6 separate regions of the Homo sapiens genome follow, and all the other regions are linked to region 1. Evidence: fine-mapped expression QTL. A gene starts in region 1. Each other region holds a variant in brackets. All regions are shown on one strand. Distances are between the middles of the regions.

Evidence for each region. PIP is the estimated chance that this variant, and not a neighbour inherited with it, causes the effect.
Region 2: its variant is fine-mapped to the expression of ASCC2 in whole blood (TOPMed, PIP above 0.99).
Region 3: its variant is fine-mapped to the expression of ASCC2 in whole blood (INTERVAL, PIP 0.99).
Region 4: its variant is fine-mapped to the expression of ASCC2 in whole blood (INTERVAL, PIP above 0.99).
Region 5: its variant is fine-mapped to the expression of ASCC2 in whole blood (INTERVAL, PIP above 0.99).
Region 6: its variant is fine-mapped to the expression of ASCC2 in cerebral cortex (GTEx, PIP 0.92).

What each region holds. Positions count from the first base shown.
Region 1 is chr22:29,835,845-29,840,952 of GRCh38, reverse strand. ASCC2 (activating signal cointegrator 1 complex subunit 2) reads left to right here and starts at 2,679. Exons shown (of 20, transcript NM_032204.5): 1 at 2,679-2,775. RefSeq lists an enhancer at 2,347-2,406.
Region 2 is chr22:29,786,359-29,791,466 of GRCh38, reverse strand. It overlaps ASCC2 (activating signal cointegrator 1 complex subunit 2), which reads left to right. Exons shown (of 20, transcript NM_032204.5): 19 at 919-998; 20 at 2,283-2,856. The coding sequence ends at 2,454. Among named protein-coding and RNA genes, the nearest start is that of UQCR10, 22 kb to the right of the region's middle. The variant C/T (reference allele first, on the strand shown) is at 2,857.
Region 3 is chr22:29,804,122-29,809,121 of GRCh38, reverse strand. It overlaps ASCC2 (activating signal cointegrator 1 complex subunit 2), which reads left to right. Exons shown (of 20, transcript NM_032204.5): 9 at 937-1,011; 10 at 2,218-2,325; 11 at 2,569-2,637; 12 at 2,832-2,906; 13 at 4,292-4,484. Among named protein-coding and RNA genes, the nearest start is that of ASCC2, 32 kb to the left of the region's middle. The variant C/G (reference allele first, on the strand shown) is at 2,337.
Region 4 is chr22:29,965,113-29,970,220 of GRCh38, reverse strand. The region is part of intron 2 of MTMR3 (myotubularin related protein 3); the gene reads right to left. Among named protein-coding and RNA genes, the nearest start is that of MIR6818, 39 kb to the left of the region's middle. The variant G/CACAG (reference allele first, on the strand shown) is at 2,304.
Region 5 is chr22:30,185,005-30,190,112 of GRCh38, reverse strand. The region is part of intron 2 of LOC105372988 (a long non-coding RNA gene); the gene reads left to right. It also overlaps a transcript of HORMAD2 not described here. Among named protein-coding and RNA genes, the nearest start is that of LIF-AS1, 52 kb to the left of the region's middle. The variant CACAA/A (reference allele first, on the strand shown) is at 2,608.
Region 6 is chr22:29,727,014-29,732,013 of GRCh38, reverse strand. CABP7 (calcium binding protein 7) reads right to left here. Exons shown (of 5, transcript NM_182527.3): 2 at 4,209-4,352; 3 at 3,272-3,384; 4 at 2,806-2,959; 5 at 181-2,572. The coding sequence ends at 2,445. It overlaps ZMAT5 (zinc finger matrin-type 5), which reads left to right. Exons shown (of 6, transcript NM_001003692.2): 6 at 660-1,058. The coding sequence ends at 789. Among named protein-coding and RNA genes, the nearest start is that of CABP7, 9.5 kb to the right of the region's middle. The variant G/A (reference allele first, on the strand shown) is at 2,407.

The sequences.
Region 1 (5,108 bases):
CCTGGGAGGCGGAGGTTGCAGTGAACCAAGATCGTGCCACTGCACTCCAGCCTGGGTAACAGAGTGAGACTCCATCTCATTTAAAAAAAAAAAAAAGTCAAAGAGATAATATGTGTAAAATGCTTATTCCAGTGCCTGGGATGAAGCAAGGGTTTGACAAATGTGGTCATTATTATCACAACTGTCTTTATCTCTCTGCACCTCTACTTCCTCTGCTGCAGACCTGGGGTTGATATGCATCCTCCAAGTATCTGTGGCAGGCAGACTCTAGAATGGCCTCCATTGATTCACATCTTTTGGTATTCATGCCCTTGTGTAATCCCCTGTGGGCAAATCCTGTGACTTGCTACTAACAAATAGAACATGGCAAAACTGATGTCACTTTCTTGATTAGGTTACATGAGGTTGTAATTTCTCTCTTCTTAGTAGAATCTCCTATTGCCTCCTTTTGTTTGTTTGAGACAGGGTCTTGCTCTGTTGTGCAGGCTGGAGTGCAGTGGTGTGATCACAGCTAACTGCAGCCTCGAACTCCTGGGCTCAAGCAATTCTCCTGCCTCGACCTCCTAAGTAGCTGGGACTACAGGCATGCACCAGCATGCCTGGCTAATTTTAAATTTTTTTTTGTAGAGACGAAGTCTCGCTATGTTGCCTAAGATGGCCTCAGACTTCTGGGCTCAAGCAATCTTCCCACCTTAGCCCCCCGAAGTGTTGGGATTATAGGCATGAGCCACGGTGCCCGGCCCCTATTGCCTTCTTTTATTTATTTATTTATTTTTAATTTTTAGAGACTGGGTCTTGCTATGTTGCTCAGGCTCAATTTGAACTCCTAGGCGCAAACAATCCTCCTGCTTCAGCCTCCCAACCTGCTGGAACCATAAGCATGTGCCACCACTCTTGGCTTCCCTATTAACTTTTAGGCTTGCATGCTTTGATGAAGCAGGCTGCTACACTGGAGAAGCCTACGTGACAAGCCTTTAGCCAAAATCCAGCTAGGAACTGAGACCCTTAGTCCAACAACCATTAAGGAACTGAATTTAGCCACTAGACATGGGAAGCAGATCCTTTTTGAGTTGAGCCTTTAAATGAGACTCCAGCCCTGGCCGATATCTTGATTGCAGTCTTGTGGGTGACCCTGATGCAGAGGAGCCAGCTATGCCATCCTCAGATTCCTGGCCCACAGAAAATGTGAGATAATAAATATGTTTGTTGGCCAGGTGTGGTGGCTCACGCCTGTAACCCCAGCACTTTGGAAGGCTGAGGCAGGCGGATCACGACGTCAAGAGATCGAGACCATCCTGGCCAACATGGTGAAACTCCGTCTCTACTAAAAATACAAAAATTAGCTGGGCCTGGTGGCTCATGCCTGTAGTCCTGCCTACTTGGGAGGCTGAGGCAGGAGAATCGCTTGAACCCACTGTAACCTCCGGGAGGCAGAGGTTACAGTGAGCCAAGATCACACCACTGCACTCCAGCCTGGTGACAGAGTGAGACTCTGTCTCAAAATAAATAAATAAATAAATGTGTTTGTTATAAGTGGCAAGCAGTGTGTTGTTATAAGTTTGTGGTAATATGTTATGCAGCAATACAAAACTAATATAATATCCAGCCCCTCTCATCTCATTTCTGGTTTACAGCCCATCTCTCCTATTTCCTTAGCACCCTGCATTCATCACACTGACTCATTGCTATTGGTTTTCTTGCACTTCCTATCCTGTAAGCCCCTTGAAGACAGGCACTGAACTAAGCATTCCTTGTAGCCCTAGTGCAGATAGCAGGGGTTGGCAGGAGTGTCCTGGGAAATATTTCACAATCCCAGGGTGGGGTTGTGTTCTCCATTCGGGGGCTTCTATAACACCCCAATAATGATGGTGGTTGGTTTTGAATTCTTACTGTGTACCAGGCACTGAGATGAAGCCAGGAATGTGTGTTCTTAACAAGTTTTCTGTGATGATTCTGATCCATAGTCAGGCTTAGGAACCACTAAACCTACATTACCTGAGACATTCTGTAGAAAAAATTGCATCCTTCTCTTAGGATAGCTATACTTGTAACTTCCTTAAACAAAACAGAACAAAACTGTATTGCATACATACAGAAAAATGCACAAATCTTAAGCGTACAATTTGATGAATTTTCCAAAGTGAACACATCTACATGGCTACCACCGAGATGAAGACAGGGGGTGACCCCAGCCTCACTTGTGGCCCCTCCCAGCCCACAGCCCCAGAGGAAACCACCAATTTTAACACCATCACTACTCATGAGTTCTGTCTGTTCTAGAATTTCCCGTAAATGAAATCGCAGTCTGTACTTGTACATCTGCTTAACATTATGTTCGTGCTTTTGACTTGTTAAAATTTCTCTTCTGGATTAAATATGTAAAACGGTGACTAAGGAGGTCGGGCAGAAGGTGGAAGCCTGGGATTCCGAGACGTCCTCTCAGGTGCCATACTTGGATTTCCCGAGAGGTGTAATCACACAGCCCGCCCTCAGCTGACCTATTCTCTGCTTAAGCAGGAAGGGAGATAGGAGGGGAAGGGGGCGTGGCTACAGACGCCGAGTGTGGGGCGGAGTCTTAAGAAGAGAGGCGCAACCCGGGTCCGGCTTCCCGGCGGTAGTTTGCTCGGCTCTGGGGGCGGGGCCAGGCCGAGACTTCCTGTCTGCTCCTGCGGAATCGCAGTTTGACCCCGGAAGTGCGGGCGCTCAGGGAGCTGTCACCGTGGTCGGCGGCGGCGGCGGCGGCGGCGGCACAGAGCCGGTGGTGGAGCCGCCGAGGTGAGTGCGTGGCTGGTCCCTGCCAGATGCAGGGCAAGGGACCCCGGAGGAGCCGCGGCTATGCCTTGGGCAGCCTTGGCTCTCCCATCCTCTGGCCTCCATTGCGGGGCCCACGCTTACGCTACCTGAGGGGTTGTGAGCCGCCTCTCGAGACTTGGCCGCCAGGGTCAGGAGCCACGGGTTCGAAGTTCGGCCCCAGAGTGGCGTTGGACCAGCCACGATCCCCCCACGTCCTCACACCCGGGGCTTCAGTTTCCTCAGGGTTCATTCATTCGTTCAGCAAATATTTGTGGAGTGCTTCCTATGTGCCAGACACAGATCTAGACATTGGGGATACAAAGAAAGCAAGACAGACAAGGCTTCTGCCCTCATGGAGCTTACAGTCTAGTGGGAGGAGATGGTCAACGACAAGCAAATGCACAAGGTCATTAAAGCTATGACAGTAACTGGGAGAGTGGATACTATAGGCAGAGCCATCAGAAGGTCTCTGAGGAGAGTAGTATTTAATTGAGAGACTAGAGGAATGATGACAAAGAGGCTGAGGGAGCAGTAGCCCCGGGGATGCTCCCAGGCCATATTGCAATTGGGTGCTTGTAGGGAGCTCCCCCTCCCTTTCTTAGCTTTTGGCTTTTGCTGTCCTGCCTGGCAGGGGAATACAGTGGTGGGCACAGACATAGTCATGATTATTGTTTGTCCTTTTGGAGCTCAAAGTTCAGATTGTCCAGTTAATTTATTTTTTCCCCCCAAGACGGGGTCTTGCTCTGTCGCCCAGGCTGGAGTGCAGTGGCGTGATCTCGTCCCACTGCAACCTCCGCCTCCCGGGTTCAAGCGATTCTCCTGCCTCAGCCTCCTGAGTAGCTAGGATTACAGGCATGCACCACCACGCCCTGCTAATTTTTTTTTTTTTTTTCGGTAGAGACGGGGTTTCACCTTGCTAGCCAGGATGGTCTCGATCTCCTGGCCTCGTGATCCGCCCGCCTTGGCCTCCCAAAGCGCTGGGATTACAGGCGTGAGCCATCGCGCCCAGCCCTGCCTACTTAATTTGTACCCGTGCTTTAGACAAAAACTCAGGTCTTCCTTGACATCACTTCTTCCTCAAGCCAGGTCTCTCTTTTAAATGCTGCCACAGCTTCATGAGCCTTATCTACATAGCTACATCATGGTATTGGTTTTTATTTGTTTGTATGGCTAATTGGAAAAGTATCTGTCTTTCCCCATTATGACTGTAAGCTCTGTGAAGGGCAGGAGCAGGTTTGTTATTTGCCCACCTTAATATTCTCTGGGCATCAGTGCCTGCCACATAATAGGTGTTCAAAAATATTTGAATGGCCGGGCAGTGACTCATGCCTGTAATCCCAGCATTTTGGGAAGCCAAGGCGGGCGGATCACCTGAGGTCAGGAGTTCCAGACCAGCCTGGCCAGCATGGCAAAACCCTCTCTCTACTAAAAATACAAAAATTAGCCAGGCGTATGCCTGTATTCCCAGCTACTCGGGAGGCTGAGGCAGGAGAATCTCTTGAACCCGGGAGACAGAGGTGGCAGTGAGCCGAGATCGTTCCTCTGCACTCTAGCCTGGGTGACAGAGTGAGACTCCATCTCAAAAAAAAAGGAATGAATGAAATGATTAACGTACTGTTTGCTCTCTCGTGGTTTATTAAAGGTCTTTTCTGCCACCAGGTTATCATCATCTCTTTCTGGTCATGTCTGTCTCATACTTAAATGACTCCTCACTGCCTTCAGGTGAAATACTAAAATCTTTAGTGTAGCATTGAGGCTTTTTTTTTTTTTTTTTTTTTTTGAGATGGAGTCTCGCTCTGTCGCCCAGGCTGGAGTGCAATGGCGTGATCTCGGCTCACTGCAACCTTCGCCTCCCGGGTTCAAGCTATTTTGAGGCTCTTTTTAAACTGGTCCTGTCTTCCCTATCCAGCTTCTCTTCTCTCTTCACTTCTGTCATCCCCTATCTGACCTGTGTTTTCAGTAACACCAAATGTCTCCCTCTTCCTTCAAAGCCACACTTTTTAGACAGGGTCTCACTGTGTCCCCTAGGCTGGAGTTCAGTGACGTATCATGGCTCATTGCAACCTCAATCTCCTGGGCTCAAGCAATTCTCCTTCCGTGGCTTCCCAAAGTGCTGATTGCAGGCGGAAGCCACCTCACCCGACCCAAAGCCACACATTTTAAGACTCTGAGCCTTTGTTCATGCTTGCTCTCTGCTTGGAATGTCACCTTTTCCCCCATCCTTCAACATCCAGGTTATAGATCACCTTCTTTGTAATATCCTTCCTTTCTCTACTATACTGTAGTTTTGGACATTTCCTGTTACAGCTTTAATG
Region 2 (5,108 bases), 49 kb after region 1:
CTCAGGTGATCCACCTGCCTCGGCCTCCCAAAGTGCTGGGATTACAGGCATGAGCCACCACACCCAGCCTTCTTCTTCTTCTTCTTTTTAGAGACAGAGTCTCGCTTTGTCGCCTAGGCTGGGGTGCAGTGGTGCAGTCATGGCTTACTACAGCCTCAAACTCCTGGGCCCAAGCAATCCTCCCACCTCAGCTTCCCTAGTAGCTGGGATTATGGGCTCACACCACCACGCCTGGCTAGTTTTTATGTGTTTTTGTAGAGATGGGATCTCACAGTGTTGTCCAGGCTGGTCTCAAACTCCTGGACTCAAGTGATCCTCCCACCTTGACCTCCCAAAGTGCTGGGATTACAGATGTAAACTACAGTGTCTGGCCTTTTTTTTTCCTTTTTAAAGCTACTGGCCACCAAAGCCTGTCTGTGGTCCCTAGGTCCCAGTTTTTCCTTGCACTATTGGCAGAGAAGGCTGTCCTTGAGAGTGGGCACTCCCACACATGCTGCTAGTGGTGCCACAGTGAGGCCTAGGCCTGCAGCTCCCGGGACCACTTAGCTCCCACGGTGGCTCCCGCAGTCTTCAGGGCCCTGCACAGCCTCTCACAGTGGCCATCCTGGCTTCCCCACCACTCCCATTTGTCATTGTTATGCCATAACTATGGTCTATCCACTCTACCAGCCTGTCCAGGAAGCCTCAGTCCCTTCAGCTGCCACCCGCTCAGGGAAGAGGTGGGGCAGGGGGCTCCTAATGGAAACCTCAGACCACAGTAATCCCACTCCATTCCTGGGCGTCGCTCTGCCAGGCTGCAGCTTCCCCCCACACCTGGCATGGAGGCATCGACAAGCTTCACTTGAGCAGGGCCTCATCGCCGCTTAGGAAAATGTGGCAGCTCCTGACTCCAGATTTGGTCTCCTCTCCTTTCCACAGCCCGACCATTTTGTTCAGGACCCTGCAGTGCTGAGAGAGAAGGCAGAAGCCAGGCGCATGGCCTTTCTCGCCAAGAAAGGGTGAGCATTCAAGGGGCTGCTTCTGGGGGGACCCCTCCCACCATCTGGGGAGGGCCTAGCCAGCCACCCAGGAAACCCACACGTACACCCTAAGTGCTCCACGTGTATTTAGTTCTCACGACAACCCAGTGAAGTAGCTACCATTATCACTATCCTTATTTGACAGATGAAAAAACTCAGGCCCAGAGACGTTAAGTAACCAGCCAGAAGTCACACAGCTAGTAGGTGATGTAGCAAAGATGGAGCCCAGATGGCTCAGCTCCAGGGTCCCCACTCATAACCATTACTTGGTGAACACAGGAGGGGATTTATCACCCAGCGTGTCCAGGGCTAGCTGATATCAGGCAGAGTGTAAATGTGAGAGAGCTCAGACAGACACAGACACATCCTTTCTGGCTGATAGAGGTATGGAAGTGACGGGCACTTGAGTTGGGCCCCTAAGGGTGAAAAGGGCTCAGAGGAGTTTGTCATATGAGGGCAGAAAAGTAAGAAAGCAGGCGTGGTCAGGAGAGGGATCTTCGAGGGGAGCTGAGATCAGTACCCAGAGACTCCTCATCCAGGCCCCGCATCTTCCCAGTGAGGAAACATTGAGAGGGGCCAAGGATCTGCCTCCACCTAAGGCCAAGCCAGGAGTAGAAGCCCACTCCCGCATCCCGGCCCTAGGCTTCATGCAGCACTGTCTGCTGGGTTCAGGAGGCCTGGCCACAGGGAAGGCATTTGGATTTCATTCTGAAGGCAGTGGGGAGCCACAGAAGGTTGTTGAGCAGGGAGCAGAGCAACCCTGACTTCTCATCCATCCCAGCCCCCTGAGTGCGGAGCTCTGGCAAATCCCAGTGGTCAAGATGGTCTGAAAGGGCCCTAGGTCACATCTGTGAGTGCACTTGGTCTTTGGAGGCTGCCAGGCAAAGCCCTAGGGTAGAGAACAGGAGTAATGTCTCAGCTACAGCATGTGGCCCCAGAGGGAGAAAGGAGGAGACCCACCTGAAGCCCTCCCCGTCTCCTGTAGGCTGTGTCAGCTCTCTAGCTGTTCCTCCGCTACACGTAGCAATGGGCGGACCTGGAAGCAAGGCCCAGAGAAGAGAAAACACCAGGCTCGGGGCTGGTCAGAGCCCCAGGGCCCTGCCCCTGCTGGGCTCCATCTCTCCTTCCATCTGAAGTTGGGACATGAGTGACCAGGCCCAGTCTGTGTCCTCTCCCAGTGAACACCAAGGCAGGCTGTGGGCTCTCCCGCCAGAGCCTCTTCCGGCTGACAGGTTCTCGTGGGGTGGGTTGTTCCTCCCTCAGGTACCGGCATGACAGCTCAACAGCAGTGGCCGGCAGCCCCCGAGGCCATGGGCAGAGCCGCGAGACAACCCAGGAACGCAGGAAGAAGGAAGCCAACAAGGCGACAAGAGCCAACCACAACCGGAGAACCATGGCCGACCGCAAGAGGAGCAAAGGCATGATCCCATCCTGAGACCTGGTGCAGGGCCAGTGGGGAGGCAGCGGCACCAGACTCACCAGGCCGTGCTCCCATCGCCTGGGGCCTCCTCACTAGGGGCCCCAAGTTCAACTCAACCCCTCAACAGCCTCAGCTTTGCAGCCCCTGAGAAGGCCGCCTCTCATCTACCAGCCAGCCATGAGCGCCTTCCTGCAGAACACACAGTGCCTTATGCCACAGCCGAAGAATCCGTGGGGCCGGCAAGCAGGCACCTTCCCCCAGCTGCGCTAGCGGGAAAGAGATGGGGATGGAGTCCCAAGGCAAGCGCCCCAAACCTCGGGCCACAAGACACCACTTCCCCTTTACCCTGGACAGCAGGAAACCTGTATATTCAAAAACACAAAAAGTCCTGCTAATAAAATTTTTGACCCTTTCAAA[C/T]GATCTGTGTATGTCCATGACCCACATTCCCTGTGTCTCATTCTTCAGGGACAGCTGCCAGCTGGAGGACAGGAAGGCAGGATGGTCACTGTACTCTCTCCGTCATCCTCTCCTGCTTGTGGCTCCTGTAACCCCTCTGATGCTGCTCTGCCTTGCTGTGTGACCCCAGAACATCACCCCCTTCTCTGAGCCTCCAGTCCTTGCTAGTGGAATGAAGGGCTGGGTGGGGTGAGCCCCTGTGGTCCTTTGCATTTTCTCATTCAGTTATGACAGCTCCACTGTAAGAGGTAGGTACCATTTTCAGCCCGGTAGTACAGATAAGGAAAATGAGGCACCGAGGGCTGAAGGCACCTGCCCCGGCCACAGCTAGGAAGTGGCAGAACAGGGATTGGACCCTGGCCTTTACAGGGTTCTAGACCCCTGTAGGTGGTGTCATCTCCATCTCACAACTGGCCCAAGGACATTCAGCCAGTGGCAGAGGCAGTACCCAAACTCAGCACCTCATGGTTGTATCTACATTGTAATAAATCCCCCCAAATCTAGAGTTCGGACAGAAACCTTAAGAAACAAGTGAGAATGTCGCTGCCAAGCCCTGTCAAAGTGAGTGGGACTTGGGCCTGTTTCCTCAAAGCCCCTTCCCAGGCATGGCCAACCAGTTCCTAGCGTGGCAGCAGATGCCAGGCCACACTGCGTGTTGTCACTCAATGGCGAGTCAACAGCGGGGCATTGACTGGGCTGACCCTAGCCCAGCCTAGCCTGGAGCCCCATCCTATCAGTGGAAGCCAGGGCCCATGCCTGGCTGGACCTTGACAAATCACCCTGGATGCTGGTGCAATTTATTTGCACGTGCTTAGGATGAGAGTCTGAAGCAGAGGCAGACAGGCACTTGATGGATTGGTTTTGTTAGGTCAGCCCGCACAAGTGAAAATCAATAGCAATCCCTCTGCCTGGCCAGCCCTCTTGGTGTATTTGAGATGCAGAGCAGATACGGGGGTGGTGTCCTCCCCCTGAGCTGCTGAATTAGCTGAGATCAGGCCCAGGGTCAGCCGTCCTGACAGGCAGCAGGAAGACTCTGTTTCCTCCTGGAGGCATTTGCCAGGGACCTCCCTAAACTCCTCAGGTCCAGTGCTTGTCCCTGGAGCAAGGCAAGGTGAGTTGGGAGTTCCCAGGATTTACTGGTCTTACCTGTTCCTGTTCACACGGCCCCTCTCACATTCTCTTAGTCATCTATACCTCCCACCCACCTGGACTGGTGTTCAGGCCTCATGTGAAAATCCTGGTTTAAAGTATTTGAGAAGGAGTCAGTTTTTCAAATTTTTCAGAATGTAGTGCCAGGTCAAACTTCATCTCCCTTGAGGATCTACTACTTTCTCATTTCAGATCTTGAAAGCACTCTTTCAGAGGTGCTTTGAAAACAGCTCAGGGGCCATCCAGAATGGTGTTCCTACGCCTACTGCCTCATCTCTCAGGGCCTCAGTTTTCCCATCTGTACAGTGATCCTGTTGGACCAGATGAAATCTTTCCACCTGGTGCCAGTTAAATCCTCTGAGGAGATCCCAAGGTTTAATTAACATTGGCAGCTGCTCCAGCCTGTGCAACATAGCAAGACCCGATCCCTCCAGAAAATAATAAATAAGGTGGGTATGGTGGTGCACACCTGTAGTCCCAGCTACGCAGGAGGCTGAGGCTGGAGGATCACTTGAGCCCGGGAGTTGGAGGGTGCACCCAGGAGTTGGAGGCTGCAGTGAGCTATAATCATGCCACTGCACTCCAGCCTGGGCAACGAGTGAGACCTTGTCTCTTTTTTTTTTTGAGACGGAGTCTTGCTCTGTCACCCAGGCTGGAGTGCACTGGCACGATCTCGGCTCACTGCAACCTCCGCCTCCCGGGTTCCAGTGATGCTCCTGCCTCAGCCTCCCGAGTAGCTGGGACTACAGGTGTGCACCACCGTGCCCGGCTAATTTTCGTATTTTTAGTAGAGACAGGGTTTCACCATGTTGGCCAGGCTAGTCTCAAACTCCTGACCTCGTGATCCACCCACCTCAGCCTCCCAAAGTGCTGGGATTATAAGCGTGAGCCACCGCACCCAGCCAGAGACCTTGTCTCTTAAAAGGAAAAAAAAAATTTGCAGCTGCAGAAGTGTTAGAAGCGAAGTGGGGCTAGAAATGCCTGCTGGGTCACTGCATCCCACCATCCCCACTGCTGCTTCTACACAGGTATTTTCTAAGTGCCTTCTCTAGGCCCTGGCAAAG
Region 3 (5,000 bases), 32 kb after region 1:
GAGACAGAGTCTCACTCTGTTGCCCAGGCTGGAGTTCAGTGGGGGGCGATCTTGGCTCACTGCAACCTCCACCTCCCAGGTTCAAGCAATTCTCCTGCCTCAGCCTCCTGAGTAGCTGAGATTACAGGCGTGCACCACCACTTCTGGCTAATTTTTGTATTTTTAGTAGAGACGGGGCTTCACCATGTTGGCCAGGCTGGTCTCAAACTCCTGACCTCTAAGTAATCCACCCATCTCGGTCTCCCAGAGTGCTAGGATTACAGGCGTGAGCCACCGCACCCAGCCAGAACAATTTTTTTTTTTTTTTTTTTTGAGATAGGGTCTCACTGTCACTCAGGCTGGAATGTAGTGGTGTGATCATGGCTCACTATAGCCTTGACCTCCTGGCCTACTGCCTCAGCCTCCCAAGTAGCTGGGGCTACAGGTGTGGACCACCATGCCTGGCTAATTTTTGTATTTTTTGTAGAGATGGAGTTTCACCAGCCTGTTTCCCAGGCTGATCTTGAGCTCCTGGCTCAAGCAATCTTCCTGCCTCAGCCCCACAAAGTGCTGGGATTACAGGCATGAGCCACTGTGCCTGGCTAACTGACAGTTTTTGAGCAAGAAAATTACAAGCAAGTAATCTTGGATCTGCTTCTCAAACTTCAGTGGGTTCCGAGTGGCCTTCTGATTCCTCTGTTAGTATGAGCCTATCTGGGCCTCAGTTGCCCATCTGAATGAGGGACATGGCTATAGGTCACTTCTTATGAGCTGTTCCTGGGACCAGCCCTAGTGGGTCAGTCTGGGGTGAGCTCAGGGAAGAACCAAGGGGTCCCTGGAGAAAATTGTGTGGAAAAAGAAATGGGCCTTCCCACTCCCTGGGGTTTGCTTTGATGTTCTTATGAAGTGTGGTATTTATGAACTAATCCAACATTTTCCCTGTGTGTGCCTGCACAGACTAGCTTCCTTCTACGAAGCAGCAATTCCCGAAATGGAGTCTGCAATTAAGAAGAGGAGGCTTGAAGATAGCAAGTGAGGCGGGGACAAAATTAAGAATGTTGTTGTGGGACAGAGAGGCCCGAGCAGGGCCCTGCCTTCCCTGGGCATTAGCATCCCTATCTCTAAGACAAGTGGGTGGGACCAGGGACTGTGCAGCTTTGAGCTTCTGCATCCCTATCTAGCCACTTCCTGACCTCTGCATTTGTTTTTTTTTTTGTTGTTGTTGTTGTTGTTTGAGACAGGGTCTTGCTCTGTCACCCAGGCTGGAGTGTAGTGGTGCAGTCACAGCTCACTGCAGCCTTGACCTCCTGACATCAATCAATCCTCCCACTTCAGTCTCCCGAGTAGCTGGGATTATAGGCGTGTGCCACCACACCTGGCTAATTTTTGTATTTTTTGTAGAGATGGGGTTTTGACGTGTTGGCCAGGCTGGTCTTGAACTGCATTTTTTTTTAAACTCTTAGCATATTAAAAAAAATATATGTTCTCTGTAGACTTGTATGAAGACCTAATAAGAAAGACTGCAACAACTAGAGTTAAGTGTTACTAAACACCGTGAAGGAGACTTGACCCAAAGTCCTGCTTGTACTAAGGCAATTATGTCTATTAACCCAATCCCCCAAAATACCATGATGGCTGGGCCCTGCATTGAAGCCCTTCCCTCAGCTGTTACTCCATGCTCTTGGTACTCAGCCTGCTGGTTCCTGACCCACCGTTTGAACTGAGAAGCAGCCCTGGAAGCAGCTATCTTCTCTGGGCCTATGGCTTTTGCCAGCTGCTCTCAGCAGTGAATTGTGAGGCCTTCTCTGCTCCAGGGAGGCACCTGCAACTGCTGGGGAGAAGCTCCCTTTGTGCCTTTTTTTCTTTTTCTTTTTCTTTTCCCTTTTTTTTTTTTTTTTTTTTTTTTTGAGACAGGGTCTTGCTCTGTCACCCAGGCTGGAATGGCACCATCATGGCTCACTGCAGCCTTGACCTCCCAGGCGAATGCGATCCCCCTGCCTTAGCCTCCCCAGGAGCTGGAACTACAGGCCTGCATCACCACACTTGACTAATTTTTTGTATTTTTTGTAGAGACAGGATTTCACTTAGTTGCTCAGGCTGGTCTCAAACTCCTGGGGCTCAAGTGATCCTCCCACCTCAGATTCCCAAGATGCTAGGGTTTCAGGTGTAAACCACTGCACCTGGCCCCTCAGGGCCTTTTTGTCTCCTAAACCTGTGTCTTTTTTCTCTCTGGCCTAGGCTTCTTGGTGACCTGTGGCAGAGGCTCTCCCATTCCAGGAAGAAGCTAATGGAGATTTTCCACATCATCCTGAACCAGATCTGCCTCCTTCCCATCCTAGAAAGCAGGTAAGCCCTCA[C/G]GAATTGCCTCCTGGTGGAAGAGTCTCCTCCCCAAGCCCTTCAGGAGCGTTTCCATTATTTCATCTTGGCTTCCTCCACTGCACTGGGGTTGGCTGAACAGAGATGAGAAACCAAGAAAAATGCCTCATTCCTCCACTGGGCCCCAGCCTTAAAGAGGGGCAGCGGGTGTGTAAAGGAGCTGCAGCTCATCTTGCATTGCATGAGCTCATCTTCCCTGGTGTCTTGTTCTAGCTGTGACAACATTCAGGGCTTCATCGAAGAGTTCCTTCAGATCTTCAGCTCCTTGCTGCAGGAGAAGAGGTGAGTGTGGCTGAGCTGGCCTGGGCCCATGACCCTCCCACAGGTCCCCAAGAGGCCTTACATGATAGACCCCCGCTATAGGCCCACCACAGCTCTAATAAGGTCGGGCTGCAAACACAGGGAGTGGCCTGCAGCAGCACAGCATTCCTGTGGCCCCAGCTCTGTCCATCCCATCTGCTCTCATCTGCCTGCAGGTTCCTCCGGGACTATGATGCACTCTTCCCCGTGGCCGAAGACATCAGCTTGCTGCAGCAGGCCTCATCAGTCTTGTATCCTTCTACCATAGCCCACTACGACAGGGCCCAGCTTGACTAGGTCAGAGGTGAGACAGGCTGCTGGAACCCAGAGGAGTGGAAAGAGGTTTAGCCCCAGAACGCATGGGTCAGCCAGCTGTCCGAGGTGGCCTGCCAAGGTCCCAGCCTTGCCTTTTCTAGAGGAGATGGCTGCTCTGATGCTTGGGGCAGGGGAGATGCAGTGCTATTTTCCGTCTGTGTTTCCTGAGTATCTGGGCCTATGTGACCAAGATGGACTCAGCCCCTCCTCACAGCAGGAGGGGAGGTGGACAAGTAAACAGGCAGTTAGATAGAGTGTCACGTGGGAAGATTTCAGAGGGCAGGAAACCAGAGGTGGCGCCTCACCCAGCAGAGCTCTGGGTGGGGGTCTCAGATGGAAATGATGTCCAAGCAGAAGAACAGCAGAAAGAATGGGAGAGCACCAAGCCAGGAGCAAGGACAAGGACAAGAATGTTCGCAGTGGACAGAGGACAGAGAAAACAGGCTCCTTAGAGCCACAGACGTGTATAGAGTACAGGGGGCAGTCCTTAAGGAGGGGTCTCCCAAGAGGAGGAATTGGGGTGTTGCAGGTGAGGTGAAGGCCAGCAACGTGCACAGCCCTGGGGTGACCATCACTAAGAAGTTTGGGCTCTGTCCTGCAAGCGCTGGGGAGCGCGGAAGGTTGTGAAGCAGGAAGTGACATGGGCAGTTCTATACTTTGGAAAAGCTCTGTCTGGCCCAGGGAAGAGAATGGACTGGCCCAGGACCACCGTGAGGCTCGGGCCAGTGAGGAGGCTGTTGCTGGCATCCAAGCATGGATGATGAGGGTTTGGACAAGAAGCAGTGAGGGAGTCTAAGGGGACTCTCAGATTTCTGGCTTGACAGTGCCCAGGGTTGTTAACAAGGAGGAAGGACAGGGAGGAGCAGCCAGCTTATGGGTCATTTTTGGTGGTTGCAGTAGATTGCTCAGTCCTGCTTCAGGGAAACCTGATGGCCCACAGCCTTTGCAGAATGCCCTCAGCTGGTTGGACAGGAAGCCCAGTGGCAGTGGCCCTACCACGCCCTCCTCCTGGCAGTCAGTACAAAAGAGGAGCTGCTGGCTCGTCCATACCTGTGCCCCAGGACACTCTGATGGCAGCCCTGGCCCTGTCTTTACTCAGAGCTGCTTTCTGCTGAGTGAAAGGCACTAGGTTGTGAGGCCAGAGTGGCTGTAGTCTGGCCCATTTTTCCATGCAGCCCAGGTGCCCGTGGGCTATACCACTTAGATATAGCCCAGAAAGCCCCTGGCAGGAACCATGTGGTCAGATGCTGGGGAGGGACTGAGAAATTATGCTGCTTCAGAGCTAGGAGCTTAAGACAGACCCCTTAACAAGTCCTCACAGGGACGAGACGCGGACTGCCTACATCCTCCAGGCAGTCGAGAGTGCATGGGAAGGGGTGGACAGACGGAAAGCCACAGATGCTAAAGACCCATCGGTGATTGAGGAGCCTAATGGGGAGCCTAACGGGGTCACGGTGACAGCAGAGGCAGTCAGTCAAGCATCATCACATCCGGAGAACTCGGAGGAAGAGGAGGTATGTGTCTGAGTGGCGCTTTTCCCTCTTCGCTTGTCCCTCCTTGGCCCTATCTGAGAGGCTGGGGCAGCAGGAAACCTCCCTTCTTTGCTTTTATACTCAGGGAAAAAGTTTTTTTGGGGAATAGACAGCCTCAAGCAACTGGTCAGCTCTGTGCTGCCTTTAGAGGGTCCCAAGCTGGGGGCATGCTGGACTGTGTGTGAGGAGAGAGCAAGTTGCTTCAACTATCGAAGCCTTAGCTTCCCCTCTATAAAATGAAGAGACGAAACTTTCCATGAACGTTTCCATGAGCCCTTCCCGGAGCTCTCCTCTAAATAGATAAAAGTGGAGCTCCTTTGGTTGCAACTGGGAACAGTGCCAAGTCCCATGGTTTGGCCTTCTTGGAAGCCCCTCCGTGGGGCTCCAGGATTCCACTGAACAAGTGTAGAAACCTCGGATCTGGTGCCTTCTCTCCAGGCTTTTCCAGGACTGGCCGAATCTGTGGCTGTCTTGATTGGCCACCAAGGCCAGGACTCT
Region 4 (5,108 bases), 130 kb before region 1:
ATAGGAAAAATAAATTTGCCTTATTACCCAAATATTCTATGCTCTTCTAAAAACTTACAATCTGTACTAATACCTTTACCTGGTTTTATAAGAACAAAAAAGGGGGAAAGAATATCCAACTAGAAACCCAAAAATAGGCTTATACAAAGAGTAAGTAAGTTGCTCTTTTCTTTGAACAGTCTCATGCAAAACCAACATTTCTAGTTTGCTAAGCTTCTGTAACACAGGATATTTCAGGGAGTCTGGGCTTCAATGTGCAGCATAAAACTCTTTTAAGGGCAATGTAAGCAAGGGAACAAGAGAACATAAAAGCAGTAGCAAGGCCCAGATTGTGTTGAGGCATTTTGAGCAGAGGAATGGTAGGAGATGACTTACTCTAAAGAATCATTTTGGCCGGGTGTGGTGGCTCACGCCTGTAATCCCAGCATTCTGGGAGGCCAAGGCAGGCAGATCACGAGGTCAGGAGTTCGAGACCAGCCTGGCCAACATAGTGAAACCCCATCTCTACTAAAAATACAAAAAATTAGCAGGGCATGGGGGTGTGTGCCTGTAGTCCCAGCTACTCGGGAGGCTAAGACAGGAGAATAACGTGAACCTGGGAGGCAGAGGTTGCAGTGAGCCGAGATCACGCCATTGCACATCCAGCCCAGGTGACAGTGTGAGACTCAGTCTCAAAAAAAAACCAAAAAAACAAAAAAAAGAATCATTTTGGCTGTTGGGTAGAGAACAGTCAAGGCTACTGGGGGTAAGGGGCAAAAGAAGACCAATTAGAAAGCGTCATTAACCCCAGCAAGAGACAATATAGCAATGAAAAGGTAGTAGAGATAGAAGTGGTGGGATGTTACTGATTCTGGATATACTTTGAAAATACTGCCCATAGGATTTGAGTGGATTAATTAAATAGGATAGAAAAAGAGAAGTCAAGCTTTTTGTGTCAGCAACCGGAAGCAAGGATTTTCTATTTATTGATGAAGAGCATTGTAAGAAAAATCTATTCTTCTCGTGCCATGCAGAGACAGCTCAACGGACAAGGAACAAGAAATTAAAGTTTCCATTTTAGACACATTATGTTTGAAAACCTATCACATATCCAAACAAAGATGCCAAGTAAAGTGCTAGTTAAACCAGACTAGAGATCAAGAAGATGGAGCCTAGAGATATAAACATAAATGTGGGAGACATCAGTGTGTGAATGGCATTAAAGCCAAATGCAGGAGCAAGTATAAATGGAGAGGCTAAGATGACTAAGGACAGGGGTTTTGGGTGCACCATTTTTTAGAGGCTGGAAGGATGAGGAAGAACCTTATGGTTCAGTAACAGACCAAGTTGGAGTCATCATTCTTAACCACTCTTCAAACCAAGCCAAACTTTTGTGATTTGGCCTAGCTCAAGAACTGAAACTAATGTAAAATTATCTCATTTATTCATTCTTTTCAATAAATATTTATTCAATATTTTCTACACTCCATGCACTGTTGTAGACTTTGGGGACACCACTGTGAACAGAAATTCATGGAACTTGATTTTATTGTTGGTCTTTCTCATTAGAAACAAAGAAACAGATAACTAATGTTAAGCAGTAGGCAACTGCTGCAAAGAAAATTAAGCAGAGTTTGGTGATGGTGTAACAGAAATGCTACTTTAGATAGGAAGGTAAAGATGTGCAAAAAGGCACTTATTGGAATTAAAAAGGAGAAGGGCAAAGGCAGAGAAAATTTGAGGGTATGAACTTATTAAAAGAACGGGATACTGTTATAAAGAACCTTTTCAAAAAAGAAACATACTGAATTACTTTTAAAAAACTGTCCTAATATTACACAAAAGATATTTGTGTTTTAGAATAAAATTTCTAAAGATAGCATCATTGACACATTCAAACTGCTGTATCTTAAACAATTTAAATGGAAGTGAATTTAATGCATTTTGCAAAACTATTAAATAACAAAATATAACTCCAGTGAGGAAGATACTAATGTCAGATGTAGATGGAATGTGAAGGTGAAACCCCCATACACTGCCGGCAGGAATGTAAAGTGGTACAACCTCTGAGGAAAAGTGTGGCAGTTCCCAAAAAAGTTTAGAGTCATCATATGTCCCATCAGTTCCACTCCTGGGTATATACCTAAGAGAACTGACAAGGTATGTCCACATAAAAACTTCTACACAAATTTTCGTAACAGCATTATTCATGATGGCCAAAAGTGCAAACAACCCAAATATGCATCAATCAATGAATGGACAAACAAAATGTGAATGGATAAACAAACAAAAAATACACACACACACACACACACACACACACA[G/CACAG]TATATATAATGGAGTTATCCAGCAATAAAATGGAATAAAATACTGATACATGACACACATAGATGAAAACATTATGCTAAATGAGAGAACCTGGGGCACAAAAGGCCATATATTGTGTGATTCCATTTGTATGAGATGTCCAGAAAAGGTAAATCCACAGAGACAGAAAGTAGATTAGTGGTTGCCAGGAGCCAGGTTGAGGGAAGAATAGGGAGTGACTGCTAATGGGTACAAGGTACCTTTGCAGGGTGATGAAATGTTTGGAATTAGGTAATGGTAATGGTTCTACAGCTTTATGACTATACTAAAAACCACTGAATTGTATACTTTAAAAGGGTGGATTTTATGTGATATGACTTATAGCTCAAAAAAAAAAAAATACAGAAGCCATGTGCAGTGGCTCACTCTTATAATCCTAGCAATTTGGGAGGCCAGGACAGGAAGACAGCTTGAGCCCCAGAGTTCAACGCCAGCCTGGGCAACATAGCAAGACTGTCTCTACTGAAAAAAAAAAAAAATTAGGTGGTTGTGCACACCTGTAGTCCTAGCCACTTGGGAGGCTGATGTGGAAGGATCCCTTGAGCTCAGGAGTTCAAGGCTGCAGTGAGCTTATGCTACTGCACTCCAGCCTGAGTGACAGAGCAAGACCTTGTCTCTAAAAAACATGCGCGCGCGCGCGCATGCACACACACACACACACACACACACACACACACACACACAACAGAGGTGAAGAGTAACAATATAATCAAACTCTTCATAAGATAAAAATAAACGCTGCAAAAAAGTTACAGTATCAACCCAGCAGCAATGAGCATTCTAAGCCCCTAGACTGTGGTCCCTAAAGACTAATTCCCACTTCAAAAGAAGATGGGGCACCTGAAAGAAAATATAACCAATTCCAGGTCTAGAAAAGAAAATGTACAATTTGATTCTGAAACATCATATTAAACTGGAATGTAAGAAACATATAAAAGACTACTGAGGGTAAGTCAGAAATAATTGGGAGTCAATTTGAAGAGACTCACTAGCTAAAAATGAAATAATTTGAGCAAAATGGTTAAATGCAATGGATTGGGTTTCAGGATGTTTAAATATGAGTTCATAAAGAAACATTCTCTCTCTCACACACACACAGAGACAGACACACACACACACACACACACACACACACACACACACACACACACGCACACCCCTACAGGTCACCAGTGGAAGATGTTAAGGAACTAACCTTTTATTTTTGAAAACTAGCAAGTAAGGGGAAAGAATCAAGTATCTATCCCGCCTTTCTTACACAAAATGAACTAGTATAGAATGAAGTAGTTGATGAGGGAAGAATTCTACCTAATATACAAAGAAAAGAATTTGATAATACTATTTTACAACTGCTAATGAAATACAAGATGCAAATAATAATCTAGTCTATGGAAAACTACAGGAAAATAACCCCTATTCTTTAAATAGCAAGACAAAAGACCGACATAGAAGGGAAACCTACAGAATTAAGAGAGACTTAAGTGACCATGTCAACCAACTGCAATATATAGATCTTATTTGGATTCTTATTCAAAGTATAAGCTGAGACATCTATTAGGGAAATCTGACCACATACTAAATATCTGATGATATTAAGGAGTTATTAATTTTCTATATAATTGACAATGTTACTGTGGTTATAGGTTTTTGTGTGTGGTGATGGGTTTTTAAAAAGAATTTATCTTTTAACTATAAAATACATAAAGTTATATACCAAGGAGTAGGCAGAATGAGTAGGAGTACCTCTGAAACAAGATGGGTCATGAGTTGGTAACTTTTGAAGACCAGTGAGATAAGTTAATGGAGATTTATTAAACTATTTTCTCTACTTTTATATATTTGAAATTTTCACATAAAGTTTTTTTAACCATAATGGCAATTCTACCTCAAAACCTCCAGTTATTGAAGAATTAATTTAAAGAGTCAAAGTTTTATCTCTCATGAAACCACTGTTTATACAGTAAGCCTATCAATATGCACTGTTACGTCTTTCAGATTTTTTTCAGAGAAATCTGAAAAAACTCTCACAAGCATCCCGGATGTCCCAACTAAAATGTACTCATCTGTAGTGACACTGAACTAGAAATCAAATTCCAATTACAAAATAAACTCTCAATCTGCAGTCACATTATATATATATACATAAGCTATCTTCCCAGTCAAATCTAATTTGTTTTGTTTTGTTTTGTTTTTGAGACAGAGTCTCGCTCTATCGCTCAGGCTGGAGTGCAGTGGTGCGATCTCAGCTCACTGCAACCTCTGCCTCCCGGATTCAAGTGATTCTGGTGTCTCAGCCTCTCAAGTAGCTGGGATTACAGGCATATGCCACCATGCCTGGCTAATTTTTGTATTTTTAGTAGAGACAGGGTTTCACCATGTTGATCAGGCTGGTCTCAAATTTCTGGCCTCAAGTGATCTGCCTGCCTTGGCCTCCCAAAGTGTGTGAGCCACCACACCTGGCCTACTCTAATTTTTTAATGAGTACAGAAATACCAAGACAAAGATTTGCCACTCGGCATTAAAAGTCTCAATTTAAACATAGTCTTCACCCAGAAATAAGGCCTTCCATTTCTATACCAAATAGATTCTGTAAAATGATGTTCTTTCTGCACTGCAGTCAGTCAAAATTTACCAATAATCTAGTATGTGTTAGACAGTATGACACTGTTAGCTCTGCATTAATACAACTTATATACCATCGCAGAAGACAGAAAAAGATGGTAATAATTACAAATTGTGCTAAATGTGATAAAGGAAACAAACGG
Region 5 (5,108 bases), 350 kb before region 1:
GGGGGTGCTGAATTGCTCACCCAAGCCCACATGGCTAATAAGTGGTCCTGAGAGGACTGGGGTATTAGAATAGTATACCATTGCCAGCTAGTAGTCTCTTAGCACAAATTGGACCCCTAGTAGGACTTAGAGAGAGGAGACGTAGGGCAAGTGAGTTTAATTGTGGGAGAAAAGGTTCAAGCTCAAGTCATGAGTGGTTTTCCAAGACAGCAGGCCTGGGTGGGGTGTGGCCTCAGGGAGTCCTGGGAGATGGGAGGCATGGTGTGAGAGCACAGGAACAGCAGGCAGCAGGGTGTCAGGAGAGGAGCCCTGAAGACTCCTCTTTGGGTAGGGGGACACCAAAACCAAACGTTCACAGCTTAAGCTAACTGATCAGTATGTCTTGGAGAAAGACAGCTTTTGACTGAAATATAAGACACTATAGCTGAGCTGGGCAAGGAATGAAGGAGGAAGACTCAGGGCAAGGAGGGAGCAAGGCCATGGTACACGTGCCATGTACGTGGTACAGGTGCACTCAGATCAGGTCCTCCATAAACTGTGAGATATGGGGCAGCCAACACAGGCTATGTACAATAGTCACTACCCACCCATCCCCCACCCCCAGGAGATAATGGTGAAACTTCAATGCAATTATACGCATCAGAAACCCTTTGTAAGTCCTCTGTAAGTGGTGAGCTCTAATATAACATATTAGGGTGAGTTGTAGTTACTACCTACTAAAGCCTTCTCTGGAGAAAGATTGCTAGTCTGCTCCTAGGTACTCACTGGTCCCCAGATCCTTCCTTGAAGGAGTCTCTTTGGAATCTGGATGAAGTGGTAACCTTCAACAGCTAATAGGCTGTTGGTTGGAAGGGCTTATTAGTTTCCTGTCCCAATGCCTTGTCATTCCCCCAAGACTAGAAGCGAAGACTCAGACAGAAAGAATTAGAACTAGTTTTCAAAACACTGGAAACAGAAAGAGATTTGACCTTAGTTTTCGGGTTAATGAAAAAAACTTTTTTTTTTTTTTTGAGGCAGGCTCTTGCTGTGTCACTCAGGCATGATCACAGCTCACTGAAGCCTTGACCTCCTGGACTCAAGTGATCCTCCCACATCAGCCTCCTGAGTAGCTGTGACTACAGGCTAATTTTTGTACTTTTTGTAGAGATAGGGTTTCACCATGTTGCCCAGGCTGGTCTTGAACTTCTAGGCTCAAGCAATCTGCCCTCTTTGGCCTCCCAAAGTGCTGGGATTACAGGCATGAGCCACCGCACCCGGCCCAAATTTCATTTTTAAAATTTCGAACAGCAGCTGCCTGCAATGGTTACAAGGGGACCTAAGACTAGTGACTGTAGGAAGTGGGGAAAAAGGTATTTTAAAGGAAAAAATAAGGAGGTGGGGTGAGTTTAGGGGCTCAAGTTAGTGAGTTTTGGTTTCCAAAAGAAGCCAACTTTGACTTAGCAATTAAGATACACCTGATTTTCTGGTAGCACAATTCAAGTTAGAACATTGGATAAGAAGTTTGAAAGAACAACTCAGTTGCATGAAAACTTCAGAAGATACTTATTGTGGAAATTTATGTACATACAAAAGTAATTCCCAGAGAGGGCCCTTTGAAAAAGTTGGCCCTTGGCCCTCCTCTTCACTTCCTCACCTGAAAATGGGTAAACAGCTCAGGGAAAGAGTGAGAATCAATGCAGCCATATTTCTGATGATTCAATGATTTTTTTTTTTCTCCAGAGATGGGGATTATTCTTTGACTTTCCCTTTTGAATACTGTTTTCTGTTTTTGTCTCTTTAATTAGAGACAGAAATTCAATTAACAAGGAGGAAAAAGAGAGAGTCTTTTCAAGCCAATTTCCTTGTGCTCCCAAGAGTTTTTGAGGTTAGGTCAGCACATATCTATGCTGTTTACCTCTTTGGCTGTTGACAGGATGGCATGTGACTTGGCCAAAAGCTGTAGCTGGCCATAGCAATGACCACTACTGTCTTGGCTTCAGAGATGCTTATTGTCTTGGCATATAACAACAGTTTTGTTTACCAGAAAAATGTTTTTTTTAAAAAAGATATATTATTATATTTATTATATTTTTGCAACACCTATCAAAGAAAGAGAAAGCAGCCATGCCAAGGTACAATTAGAGGTCACTGTGCTGTATCAAGCACTTTGGGTTTCCTGTTGACTAGCCTACATTCCTCTTTGCATTAAGACTCACAGCGGCTCCCCCACACCACCCCCACTGCCCCTGCTACCTTGCCCCTAAGAAAACTGAACTTTATAAAGTGAACGTAAATGAAATGCTTTGAAGGAAAAAGTCACAGTATGTCTCTAGGCTGAAACACTTTTTTCAGGTTGCTTAAAAGAAATTATATTTGGCCCATTTTCAGGGCAGCTCTTTGGCTTGGGGAAAAAATGCATCTGCTAAATCAGCAGTCCTCTACCCCACTCCATTCCACCAATCATAAGTGCTTCCAAACTTAGCTGGGCCAGTACTTAACACAGTAGACTAAGAAAATGATCTGAATGTTCAATCAAATCAGTATCTTCTATGAGAGAATATTCACAAAGCATAGTTAATTGAAAAAAACGGAAAAAAATACACACACACACACACACACACACACACA[CACAA/A]AGGAAATATACTAAAGTAAGGAGTGGGACTATGGGTAATTTTTTTCTTCTTTGTGCTTTTCTTATTTTGCCATAAGCAGATATTATACTCATAGCAAAGCATGGTGGTTAAAAGCACAGACTTTGGAGTCAGACTGCCTGGTTCAAATCCTACCTTTACCACTTCCTGTGGTGACATTAAGCAAATTACTTAATTTCTCTGTGCCTCAGTTTCCATATCTGTAAAATGGGGATAAGGATTGTACCTATCTCAAAGGGTTGTTATGGGAATTAAAGAGTTAATATGTATGACATGGTTAGAACACATCTAGCATACAGTAAACCCTAAGTGTTAAATGAAGAAAGCATTAATTTTTCATTTAGTCAAAGTATGGTTAATTTTCTCTAGAATGCTACTTGCCATTCTACGACATTCACATTTTATTATATGTGTTGCTGAATAGAGGGCACATACATCCCAAAGCCAATGTTTGTCCTCAACTAACGTAGTTAGAGTGGATGCTTGACATTTGGTGGGTGTCGAAAATTCTTACTTCCCAGAGGCCATGACAAAATGCAGGGATTTCCCAAAGATATACGATGACCCCCCCACCCCCAACCCCTTCTTTGGTCGTAGATGAATTATGGCAAGCCTTATTGTCTCCTAAACCACAGGTTATACTATCGCAATTTGATTAATGACGTTCACAGAACTGAAAGGATCCTTGACCTTTGGTAAATTATGCCCCCCTTGCCCAAGAGTTGATAGCCTTGGGTAAACCTATGTTCAGTGATACGTGCTCCACTTCCTCACGTAGGCCTGGGAGGTGCAGAGGGAAATGAGAACCAACTTTGTGGCAGACAGTCAAATAATTGTGAAATTGTTAATGGCTGATAGGAAAAGATGGAGGAGGTAATGATGAGGCAGAATTAGTTCTGAAAGATATTTTCCCATCAGTAAGAGGGTCTTCACACAAAAGCAAACCCACAGTTTAAAAAAACTCTAATATTGTGGAAAGTGAGAAACAAACACTTTATGTTGTCTTGCAGAATAAAAAACTGAATGATTGAGCTATTTTTTCATTTTGTAATGAAAAATGTTATGTTGATGAGGTGTAGCCCAAAAGCTGGCAGAAATAAGTAAACAGAAAAAAAAAAAAAAAAGGACAGAAGGAGGGAGGGAGGAGGGGTCTCCTATCCAGAGGAGAGAAAACAAGATGGCACTGAAAATCATATAAAATCACCACTGATGCTGTTTCCTTTCAGCCAATGGAAAAATATTCTAGAAAAAGGAAACTCCAAATCTCTTGTTTACCCAGCTGTCTGTACAAAGTGAATTATTCATGATTAAATGTGAATAATAAACCTATGCAAATATTTGTTGTATTCTTAATTTTGAGGAGGTTGGGGGAGCAGCAGGAAGTCATTTTAAAGTGATTTAGTTAACTATCACCTTTAAAATTAAATCAAGAAAGAAAAAGATTTTTGATTGTTATTTATATATGCCTCCCCCCCCAAGAAAAACACACAAGGTTGTTTTTTTCTTAGGAGGCTTATGTCCTATTGGAAATGACAATTTAAAGCTTTTCTCTTAGTATTATGACCTTTATATAATTTCCTTAGAAACTAATAGTGAAAGCTCTTTTTATTTTTTTTTTTTTAATTTTACTGGCTTTAGAGGGCTGAAAAGCTTACAGCAGAGGTTCTTCTATAAAGGGAAACCTTAACTGACAAGTTTCCAGGTACCTGCTGCTTACTGTAAACTCTTACCTATAAATTTCAGTTATAGGTTTTTGATAAAGGGAATATTACAATAATACTGATACCTGGCAGTTTTTAGCTGTTTATCTTTTTGGTTGCAGAATTGGTTTAACAGTTTCCACCAGAACTGTTAGACTAATGACTTTTAGCTAGAACTATGTTAGAGTTTATTTAGCTTATCCATTTTAAGAAGCACTTGAAATCTAAACAATAGTAAGTTATTGAAAGGTGGTTTATCGTCTTGTAAACTCTGTAACTTTTCTACCTCTCTACACATTGTATCATCACCATAATCTCTTAAACAGTTCATAGCATGCAAATGATTGCTTTATATACTATAATCATAAATGAGTTTCATTAATAAAAACAGCTTCCCTGTGGGCCTCATTTTGAAGGCTGAGTTGTTTCTGACTAATGCCCAAGTTTCAGTTAAGCATAAACTAGGTTCCGACGAAGCTCGCTTTTGCTCGACAGTAACCCAAATGCCTGGAGGAGGGGCCAGAGAACTGGTCCAGGCTCTCCTGGTTCCTGGGATCAGGATCTCTCTAGAACCACTGATGATGAATGGGCTGGTCCCTCAAGGGAACCCTCCATTCCTCCTCCAAACTATCCCAGAGCCCAGGCAGAGGGATCACAGGTACTGTGCCAGATTTAGAGTAGACTGTCATAACCCACTGCTTCTATCTCCTGGTTGTTAAAAACCCTAGGTGGAAAGACAGGTTCACTATCCACATTTTGCAACTAAAGAAACAGTGGA
Region 6 (5,000 bases), 110 kb after region 1:
TCGGGGTGGACGTTGAGGAGGAGGACAGTGAGTAGCATGAGAAATTAGGCTTTAAAAAAAAATTTAGACAATGTTTTTTTCTGATTTCAAAGGCTTGTGTGCTCGTAAAACTTTTGAGAAATATAAAGGAGTAAAAAAGTCACCCATAATGGCACCACTCAGATAGGACCACTGTTAACATTTTGCTGTGTCTTCCAGGATTTTTTTATGCATTTATATATTTTATATATTTTTAAACAAAAATAGTATCATGCTATATACATTATTTTATAAGCTGCTTTTTCTCCCTATCACACAGTATGTCTTTCCTCATCAGTGCATATAAATCTGCCTTAATTCTTACACAGGCCGCATGGCATTCTCTGCTGTGGACGTGCATATGTATTGAATCAGTCCCCCACAGGTGGACACGAAGGTTATTCCCATTGTCTCGCAGCTCAATGTCTGCCTGCAACCCCGCTATTTCCTTGGGCTCAGTTCCTAGAGGTGAGGTCGCTGGCTCAAACGGTCTGCCTATTTTCGAGGCTCTGCCTTCCAGAAAAGTCATGCAGGCAGCTGACCCTCCCCACAGCCAGGGTGGTGAGGCAGGTGGGCTGGGGGTGGCATAAGCCTGGGCTGTAGTGCACTCTTATTCTCCCCGCTTCTCTCTCTCTCTCTAGGGCTGAACCCATCAGAACCACTGTCTTCCAGTACCCCGTGGGCTGGCCACCAGTTCAGGAGCTGCCTCCATCCCTGCGGGCACCCCCACCTGGGGGGTGGCCTCTGCAGCCCAGAGTCCAGTGGGGCTGAGCCCCTTGCCCCCGACTGACCCCCACGTGGTCACTTTTCTCATCAGTCACAATAGGAAGCCAAGCCCGGTTCCTGCTACGCCCCATGGAGGCTCCGAGACCATCTGCCCAGCCTCACTGAGGCTCAGGACACGGCCACACCAAGTGCAGCCCTCGTCCTGGGTCTGCACCGGGCAGCTCTCCCCTCACTCTCCTCCACCTGCCCCCCTGCTTCTTAAGAAGATGGGGGAGAAAACTTCCAAATGTTTATAAAGAAAGTCTGTCACCACAGTGGTCTGGCTGTGTTTCCCTACACTGGGTGCTCTGAGCTCTGTTCTCCAGCCCCTAGCAGAGGTCGGGCAAGGAGGGAATCAGATGAGATTTTCCCCAGGTGACCCACGCTCACTCCCTTCTCCCTTGGGACCAGCAGAGGTTCAGCACGGCCAGGCAGAGGGTGTGCCAGGGTGGCTGTGCCCGTTGCCTGGTAAGAAGTGGCTCTAGGCCCAAGGAGCCCAAGGGCTCCATCTGCCATCCCCGCCCTGGAAGAATCCACAGCCCCCATGTCTGCCCATGCTGAGCTGCTGCCCAAGTATTTGGGATGGCACAGCTGGGGCATGGGAGCGGGGTCTCCAACCTTGAGGGCGTAGAGAAGTGGGAGGACAGGAGGGCAGGCCCTGGGCTGAGAGAGTGGCCTGGCGCAGCCTCTTGGCACTGACAGTGTGGGGCTGTGCCAGTTTCTTGGCCCAGGAGGTAGTACAGGGGCCCTCCCAAAGTTCAGCCCTGGAGGAGCCCCCTGGCTGGAGGCTGCTCAGAGCCTTCAGGCCCCAGCTCTGCCTCCTTCCTCAGCTGGACTACAGTTCTAGGCTCTAGGCTGGGGTGGTGGACAATGTGGCCTTGGTAGCTGGGCCTCTGGTGGGAGGGCCAGAAGGTGGGGGGCTGCAGGGCCACCTCAGATGCCCATCCTCCACGAGCTTCTGCCTTTCCTGAAAATCCCTGTGGAAGGAAGAACTGAGGCCAAGTCTCGGGGCCCTGAGCCTCGGGTTCCTCACCTGTGAAATGGGCTGGCCCAGCAGGTACATGGAGAAAAGGGGGTCTGGGTTGGGGTCCAACGAGGGTCAGAGGAAGGGGCCCAAGGAGAAGACCAGGGGCCTCCTCAGGCTATGCCAGGCAGCAAGGCCCAGGACACCCTGGCTTCCCACCCTCCCCCAGGAGAAGGCTTTCTGTCCCTGCCTGTGCCCTGTGCCCTGGGCAGACCTCAGGGACCAGGGCTGGGTTGGCTGTGTGGCCCCAGATAGGCTGCTGTCTCAAGGCACAGGGTGCCCGCTCCTGCCCAAGGGACCACAGCAGCGACTGGGTCCTGGGGGTTCCTGTGCAAATCCCTCCTTAATTTCCCAGGAGCCCCTGGATGGTAGGAAGAGTGAGTGCTCCTTACAGGCCAGGGTGGGGACAGGGTGGGGCTGGGGACCATCCTCAGAGCCACCACCCGGCCCTCCACAGCCAGGCCACAGCTCCAGGTGAGGACCGTGGGTGGGTGGGGAGGGCTCGCTGGATACCCAGGCCCTGAAGTACACGCAGATGGCGGCCCAGGGAGCCGGCCAAGGGAGAGGTCTGCAGGCGGCGGTGGTGTGGGGCGGGCCAC[G/A]GGCACCGCATGCGGTGGATGGGGCATCCAGGTGGCGTCTACTTCATGCCACTGCGCAGCACCTGGTTGGCCGCAATGAGCATGACACTGATGATGAAGGCGATGGCGAAGGCGCAGATGAGACTCTTGCGCACGCAAGTCTGGCGGATCTGCTGGTTGGAGCAGGCTGTGGCCGCCCGCCGGGAGCACCGGGGAGACAGAAGGGGACATCAAAGCGATGGAGTCAGGAGCCGCCTGCCCTTCGGCACATGGGCTCATCCCATGGGGTGCCCCAATGGGACAGAGGCTTAGGACAGGCAAGGAGGCCCCCAGCCCCCCTCTGCAGACTCTCCCCACCCCGTGCGTCCCCCTGGCCAAGTCACTGGGCCCACCCGTGGGGTTCCAGGGCCAGCCACTCACTCTCCACATCCACGGGACACTCCTCGGCTGTGCCCAGGTGGCTCTCCTCCTCCGTCATGATGATGTTCTCTATGTCCTTCATGGACAGGTGCTCGCAGAAGGTGTCGTAGAGCAGCCGCTTCAGCTCATCCACCGTCAGCTTCTGCATGTCGCACTTGCGGAGGGGGACAACACGGTGCTCTGAGAGCCACCGCAGCCCCCACCCAGCACCCCACGGCCATACAGACCCGGTGACAGGCCTCTAGATTCTGGGGGGCTGGAAAACACTTGCTCCATTCCCCCAGAGAGTCCTTGACCAACACCGGCCTCCCCAGGGAGCCCATGGCCCTCTGAGAGGTGAAATGTCCAGTGGACACAAGCCTGAAGTGGTCATCCCCCCTTTACAGTGTGGGCCCAGCCATTCACTGGCTCCAGAACAGAACTCCACAGTGTGCACAGCCCTGGGTCCCAACTAGCCAGGGGATACCTTCCAGAAGACAGTATCAAAGTCGGTGCCATGGAACTTCTCTGGGATCCCTGAGGTGGAGAGTTTGGGTCCCAGAAGGGTCACAAACTCCTCAAAGTCCACTTGACCATCACCTGGTGGAGGCACAGGTCCAATCAATCAGTGGGTAGGGCCCAGGCCTGCAGCCCAGGGCCCAGAGGTCCTGGGATGGAGTCTTGATACACCTTGGGCCTACCGGGTGGCCTTAGGCAGGTGCCCGCCTTCTCTGAGCCTTGAGTCAGTGTCAGGGGCATCTACCAAGTGCCAGGCTCTGGGCTGACGCTGAAGCCACCCAGTGTGATGAGGCCTTACAAGGGGAGGTGGAGGTAGACAGCAGGTGGGCCGTGACCCTCCTATTTCACCCAGAACCCTCCGTTGCTCCCAGCACCCTGCGGCCATCCTGGGGTGGGCCATCCTCCACCATATAGACAGGAACTGAAGCTCAGAGTGGGGCAACCTGCCAAGGCTGTCACCTGGCCTCTGGATGGAGAAGAGGAGAAGAAGGGCCCGGGTGGGATAAAGAGGGGGCTTGGCATCACTATTCCTTATGAACTTTTCCTTAATAAAATGCCAGGTGGCAAACACAACTCAAGTAGTCATTTTATCTCAGGTGGTGGGAACTGGAGTATTTATTGCATCCTTTTACTTCTCTGTACTTTAAAACTTCTCAACACAGAGTGAAAGGAGCCATCTCTGAGCCCTGCATGTGGCTGGGACTGTCACTACCTCTCTGGCCTCAATTCTCCAGGCTGAGAAATGGGGCCAGACCGGGCTGCAACCTGCCACGGACTTTGAGGGTGGGAGTCAGGGGAGCGAGAGACCCAATTTGGATGCAGCCTCAGCAGCTCAGGCCCCAGCCCCTGCCCCACCCCCAGGGCCCAGATGCCAGGTGGGGAAACCGAGGCGGGGGGGTGCTCACCATCCATGTCCAGCCGCTGGATGATGACCTCCAGCTCCACCTCGTTGGGCATGTAACCCAGTGAGCGCATGGCTGTGCCCAGCTCCTGCTTGGAGATGAAGCCATTGCCGTCACGGTCAAACACCTTGAAGGCCTCTCGGATCTCTGAGGAGAGAATGGAGTAGGCTGGGACTTCACCCCGGTCCCCAACAGACCCCCTTTCCAGACCCCCAGGATCACCGACCCTGCAGCCTGAGCATGGCCTTGAGAGCCCAACCCAGAGCCTGCAGATCTGGTGAGAGCATGGCCCGAGGGTGCACAAGGGTGCCGTATTCTGGGACCTCTGGGCAGGCTGAGCAGGGCAGTAAAGCAGGGCTCAAGGCCCCCCAGCAGTGACCTCTTGGGATCTGATTGCGCCAGGCTCTCACAGCCTCTCCTGGTGTGCTCACAACGACCCCGTGTGGTGGGGACCACGTGCAGGGGAGGATGCTGGATCTCCCCGGCCCCCGCGGCTGCTGACGGCTTCCCCACCCGCCCCCATTCCTTTCATCCCCCTCTCCCCCACCATCTCCATCCCGCTGCGCCTCCTCCCCCAGGCTCGGATCCTTAGATCCTTAACACCGGCCAACACTTGCTAATGGCAGCCACGTGAGGCAGCTTGCTCCAGACTAATGGGCTGACAGGCGGCACAGACCTCTTTTGGTTCAGGGAAGACAGAGGGGGAAGGAGCCCCCCTCCAGGTCCAGGCCAGACCAGACTGGGTGGGGGGTCGCCCTCCACACTGTACGGAGCAGAAGACCGAGGCCTGATGAC